Linked DNA regions of Homo sapiens: region 1 is linked to region 2. Evidence: fine-mapped QTL for protein levels in blood plasma. A gene starts in region 2. The other region holds a variant in brackets. All regions are shown on one strand. Distances are between the middles of the regions.

Region 1 (2,911 bases), 29 kb after region 2:
CTGGCCAAGAGAGGTAACAGGCACTGTATATCAGTGTGTCAGGAACCTAGGCTGAGCGTAGGGGTGCAGAGGGACAGGGAGCAGCCCTAATAACACAGGCAGGAGGCAACTGCCCCCCAAGGATTCAGGAGGTCAGGGAAGGAGAGATGAGTCAAGCCCAAGGCAGGGGAGAGAGGGCAGCAGAGCCAGAGGTCCCTCAGCCTGGCAGGGCATATATTAGGGCTTCCCAACATGGTCATTAGGGGACAGCCACCCAATCACCTGTCCTTCTAAAAATGCTGGTCTTCTACTTTCAACCTAGGCAGTAGTGATCAAAAATTTTTTTTTCTTCTTGAGATGGAGTCTCGCTGTATTGCTCAGGCTGGAGTACAGTGGCGTGATCTGGGCTCACTGCAACCTCCACTTACCGGGTTCAAGCGATTCTCCTGCTTCAGCCTCTGAGTAGCTGGGACTACAGGTGCCCACCACCACATCCAGCTAATTTTTGTATTTTTAGTAGAGATGGGGTTTCATCATATTGGCCAGGCTGGTCTCGAACTCCTGACCTCGTGATCTACCTGCCTCGGCCTCCCAAAGTGCTGGGATTACAGGCATGAGCCACGGCACCTGGCAGTGATAAAAACTTAAAAGGCATATCTTATTTGATTCTGCAGTTCCACTTCTAGAAATTCATTCTATAAATAGACTCATATGACTATAATAACAAAGGGACCAGGACCAGTCATAGTATTCTCACTTGTGTTATGAAACATAGGAAACAACCTAAATGTCCATCAATAGGGGACCAGTTAAATAAAGGAGGGTCAATCTACCCAGTATAACACCATAAAGCCACACAAAGACTGAGGACTCTCTTTATGTACTAATAGGGATTTTTTTTTTTTTTTTGAGACAGAGTCTTGCTCTGTCACCCAGGCTGGAGTGTGGTGGTGTGATCTCAGCTCACTGCAATCTCCACCTCCAGGGCTTAAGTGATTCTTGTGCCTCAGCCTCCTGAGGAGCTGGGACTACAGACACATACAACCACATCCAGCTAATTTTTGTATTTTTAGTAGACACAGGGTTTCACCATGTTGGCCAGGCCGATCTGGA[A/ACTCCTGACCGCAAGTGATC]CTCCTGACCGCAAGTGATCCTCCTGCCTCAGCCTCCCAAAGTGCTGGGATTACAGGCGTGAGCCACCGTGCCCAGCCCGATAGGGAAATTTCTCCAAGACATCCTGTTAACTGGAAAAAAACAAAATGCAGAACACTGAATATTAATGAGTATGATGAATGTTTTACACTGTATTTGTATAAAATAGAGGGGGAAAGATGTATGTGTATGGGTGTATATATGTGTGTGTATATATATGTATATACGTAAAATGCCTCTGGAAAAATATTTAAGAAACTGATAACCCTGGTTGCCTCTGGGGAGGGGGACTGGGTGGCTCCAGGATGGGGCAGAAGGAAGGAGACTTTTCATTGAGTTCTCCTTGAGACCTTTTGAAATTTGAGCCATGAGAACTGTTACCTAGTCAACAATAACTACACTGTACGAAGAAAAGCATACGGACATGCTCTGTGGGAAGCAATTAGAAGTAGGATAGGTTACTTCTCCCACTTTGCAGAGGCCAGGGCCTGGGGTCTGGATGCCTGGTGTGGCCTCATGCAGACTCTCTGGGCAGGTACCACAGTATGACGCGACAGCTGCTCCGCAAGGCTGACGGGGTGGTGCTCATGTACGACATCACCTCCCAGGAGAGCTTTGCCCACGTGCGCTACTGGCTAGACTGTCTCCAGGTGAGCAGATGGCTGCTGGGGTTGGCCCCAGTCCCTCCAGTCAAGAGGGATCTTATATCCTGCCCACTCCCTCTTTTCTCCCAGGATTACAAATGACATGACAGACATATGGGTGACACCACCCACTGAGGGCATGTGGTTGGATGAGCTGGGAATGCAGTAGTACAAAGAAACCACAACCACATAGTACAGACTTCAAACCAAACTACTTCCTTTATCCTGTGAACATTCTCTTCCTACATATGGCAGCTGTTTGTAATGTCTTCTTCTTACACTTGAGGCTAATGTAGTTCTTGTGCCATTCCATGTGGTAATTCCTCTGTTCACACATCTCTAGTTTTTCCCCTGCTTACTTCCTCAAAGCATATATACTGAAATTCTGCAGTGTGTACTAGCACAGCAGAGGGGTGTGAAGTTAGCCATGTTGCCTTCTCTCTGGAAGTTTCTAGTTTAGCAAAAGAAGCAGGATAAGGTAATGTGTGAAGAGGGGAGCTGAGCACTGGGGTCTGACAGGACCTACATTTGAATCCCACCCACCCGAACTCTGTGACTTTGGACAAGTGAATTGAGTTCTCTGAACTTCAATTTCTGGAATTCTCTCATAGGGGAGTTGTGACAATTAATTGATAGAATTGCTTTCAGCACAGCACCTGGTGTATAGCAATCACTCACTAATCAGAAACTATTATTATTATTCATGAGACAATTGGGAAAATGTATAATCAAGTGCTGGACTGTTCAGAACAGGCAGGAAGAGAGGACATGGGCAGGAACAACCCAGGAAGGCTTCCTGGGGGAGGTGTTCTTAAGGTTGGCCTTGGAAAATAAGTGAGATGTTTATCAGCAGAGAGGAAGGATGGGGGAAAGGGTCCAGGTGAGAAGGTTATGGAGTGGATGTGGCCTGGGAGGGGGAACATGCGGGGGACACAGTTCAGCTTCTAGGAAGGCAAATGTGCCAGGAGCCTGGCACACAGTGGGTGTGGCTGACAGAACATGTTCTGTGTGCAGGATGCAGGGTCGGATGGGGTGGTCATCCTTCTCCTGGGAAACAAGATGGACTGTGAGGAGGAACGGCAAGTGTCCGTGGAAGCTGGGCAGCAACTGGCCCAGGTAAGCACTTGGGCATCAGCCCGTCTCTGTGCGTGGACTG
Region 2 (2,911 bases):
CTTTCTTTCTTTTTTCTTTCTTCTCTTTCTCTCTCTTTCTTTCTCTCTCTTCTTTCTCTTTCTCTTTCTCTCTCTTCCTTCTTCCTTCCTTCCTCCCTCCCTCCCTCCCTCCCTTCCTTCCCTCCTTCCTTCCTTTTCTTTCCTTCCTTCTTCTGCAACCATGGCAAATGAACTATGCCATGATTTCTTATGGCATTTGTTCAAACATACAGAAAAGCAGAAGAACATAATGAGCCTGCAGTACCCTCATTAACTCCAGCAGGGATCAGAACAGGTCCAGAGCCAGTCTTGTTTCATCTATGTCCTACCTATTCTCCACACTCTTCAATAATTTTGAAGTAAATCCCAAACAACATATAATTATGTGATTTTGATTTTTAAAATGCTTATGTCTTTTATCCATCTGGAATGCTTTTAGAGTTAGAGCTCTTTGTTTTTTGCAGATACCTAGCCCATTCTCCCAACATAGTTTATTGAATAAACCATCTCTTCTCCAATGATTTGAAGTGGTGCCTTTATGATACACTAAATCCCCACAAATATTTGAGTCTATTCCTGTCCCACAAATATTTGAGTCTATTTCATTATTCTGTTCCACTGATTCATCTGTCTATAGTCATGCTCCAATTCCACACTGTTCTGATGGTTGTAGCTCTACAGTGTATTTTGGTATCAGACTAGATTGTTCCCTAAAAGGTGGTTTAGATATAAAGCCTCCCCTGAGGCTCAAAGACACTGTCTGAGAGTGAGGGCCTGAAGTGAGGCAGGATGGGCAGTTCTCCCGGGGCATCCCATACACTTAGCTTCAGCCACGGCTGTGCCCATCAACCTGCTGCTGTCTGGGATAAGGCATTGCCTTGGCAACCAGAGACTGAGGCCCAGTCCTGGCTGTGCCACTAAGGGCTGGGTGATCTTGAGCAGTCCATCTCACTCTTTGGAGCCTCTGCTTAGGAGGGCCTCCCTGCCAGCTCCAGCATTCTCCACTTCAAGACACCAATCAGGGCAGGGATGCCTGGGGGTGCCAGGCAAAATTGTGAAAGGGCCGCCAGTGGTCGCTTCCACAGGAAGTCCTGTAGATGAGCACAGGAGATTGGCTCGCTGGGGAACGGAAAGGGAGATTAAGCAAGACAAGACTGTTAACAGTTCTAGAGCTCGTGGGCTCCGCAGGGCAGCAGTCACCCTACCACCAGGTCCCAGAGCCCAGGGCTGTGTGTTCCACTGGGAGCCTTTGAGAGGTAGGAGCCATCCCAAGGTTGCAATGCTTCTTTTTCTTTGGAAGGATGAGGATGGGGGAGGGAGCTGGGGTCCCTGTTTAACTTCTATGTCAAGGGTGCAAAAGGCAGAGCCCTCTTTTCTCCTGCATTTGGAGCTCTCTGCATGGTCTAAGGGAGGGGATGGGAAAGCACTTGGGCAAGAGGCTGGGGTACATCACTACCCGTAAATGGCTGTGTGACCTAGGGCAAGTCACCTGGTTTCTCAGAGCCTCAGTTTCTCTGTTAGTTAGGAGAGGAGGAGTGAGGATAAGTAGACTGGAACAAGACACTAGGTGGTCTCTCAGGCCCACTGACTTGGACCACTGGGGTTTAGCGACTGTGGCTATTATTTACAGCTATTGAAGCCAGCCAAGTGGAGAGCAGACCCAGTTCTGAGCGCCCTTTGGTGAGACAGTGATGGATACCCGGAGGCCCCAGGCAGGGCCCATGCCAGGTTGTAATCTGCTGCTGCCTGCTGCCCCACCCCACTCTTCTTCTCTGGCTTCCACTTCCTGGTGGGCAGCCTGTGGTGCCTGCTGCCTAACAGAATACCACGGTGGTAGTGGATTCCCGCAGGTGCTTGGGAGTGGGATTCATTTGCTCTCATGTTTGGCTTCAAGTTTTATGCGATTTCTTAGGTGAGGGATGTGGGGAGAGGTGGTCATGCTGAGGGGCTATATGTGTGTCCTAGCCATGAAGGGGTCCCCCACTCTTAAGGACGTGAGGCATGAGGATGCACTAAGGGGAAAGTGGTGGAGGAGAAGGGCGCTGGCAGGGTGGCCCTGCCAGCTGACTCGGAGGGATGTGTGTGCTGGGCGACGGCATTTGCACATGCAGAATGGAATGATGGAATGGCCGTGAGGGGTGCTGTGTCTGACTGAGAGGCTGATGGTGAGGGATTGGAGGGTGAGGATGATGGCCAAGGAGGGTGTGTGTGCGTGCACGTTTGCACGTGTACATTTGTGGATTGACTGAAGGATGTCCTTGCTGTCTCTGAGGGACCAGGCCTGGCCTAGAAGGGACACAGACTGTTTTTAGGTTGTGCTGTCAGGCCGTGGGGGTGCTGTCAGGGATCTGAATGTGAAGGCACGAGGGGTGAGTGCACCATCCCACCTGATGGTGACAAGTGACTGATTTTGAGGTGGCGATGGCTGGAGGGCACCTGCTGCCTTCCTGCCCCAGGCCACCTGTCAGGCAAGGAGCGGGTGGCTGAGTACCCCTCCTGGGAGAGAAGGATTGACTGGCAGAGAGGGCAGATGCTGAGGTGGGGCAGGCGAGGTGTCTGGAAGGTGCTATTTTCTTAAAAAATGCCAGGGGACTGCTGGAAATGGGCTGTGGAGGTGTAGCTTGGCTAGGAACTCCCAGAAAGGAAAGTCAGGAATGCCACATGTCCTAGGATGTGGCTGCAGGGAATTTCTTCCAGGATTCTAACATCCTACACCTGTGGGAGCCCGGCAGGCTGCGATGTGACACTCACATCACAGTGGACTTTGCTTCTGGAGGCTTCTGCACAGGGAATCTTATCTTGCTCCCTTGGCCGTGTTAGCTCCATTGCCGGAAGTACATGAGACATTGGGCGTCACCACAGGAGCCAAGCCTGTCAACGCCCACCCCGTTCCAAAGCCCTTGTCCCACTCAGGGCTACTCCACTGGGTGTT

Alleles and levels. Alleles are on the strand shown, and positions count from the first base shown. The strength of an association depends on the size of the effect and on how common the allele is.
With allele ACTCCTGACCGCAAGTGATC in place of A in region 1, the plasma level of the protein whose gene starts at base 1,146 in region 2 is lower (moderate association).

The links. PIP is the posterior inclusion probability: the model's chance that the variant is causal. Protein levels are from antibody-based Olink assays in UK Biobank. Linkage for the fine-mapping came from a reference panel and not from the study's own genotypes, which makes the PIPs less certain.
Region 1: its variant is fine-mapped to the plasma level of the RAB44 protein (UK Biobank, PIP above 0.99).

Annotation. Positions count from the first base shown.
Region 1 is chr6:36,725,931-36,728,841 of GRCh38, forward strand. It overlaps RAB44 (RAB44, member RAS oncogene family), which reads left to right. Exons shown (of 14, transcript NM_001257357.2): 10 at 1-13; 11 at 1,647-1,761; 12 at 2,770-2,871. Among named protein-coding and RNA genes, the nearest start is that of RAB44, 30 kb to the left of the region's middle. RefSeq lists an enhancer at 729-868. The variant A/ACTCCTGACCGCAAGTGATC (reference allele first, on the strand shown) is at 1,093.
Region 2 is chr6:36,696,681-36,699,591 of GRCh38, forward strand. It overlaps RAB44 (RAB44, member RAS oncogene family), which reads left to right and starts at 1,146. Exons shown (of 14, transcript NM_001257357.2): 1 at 1,146-1,235.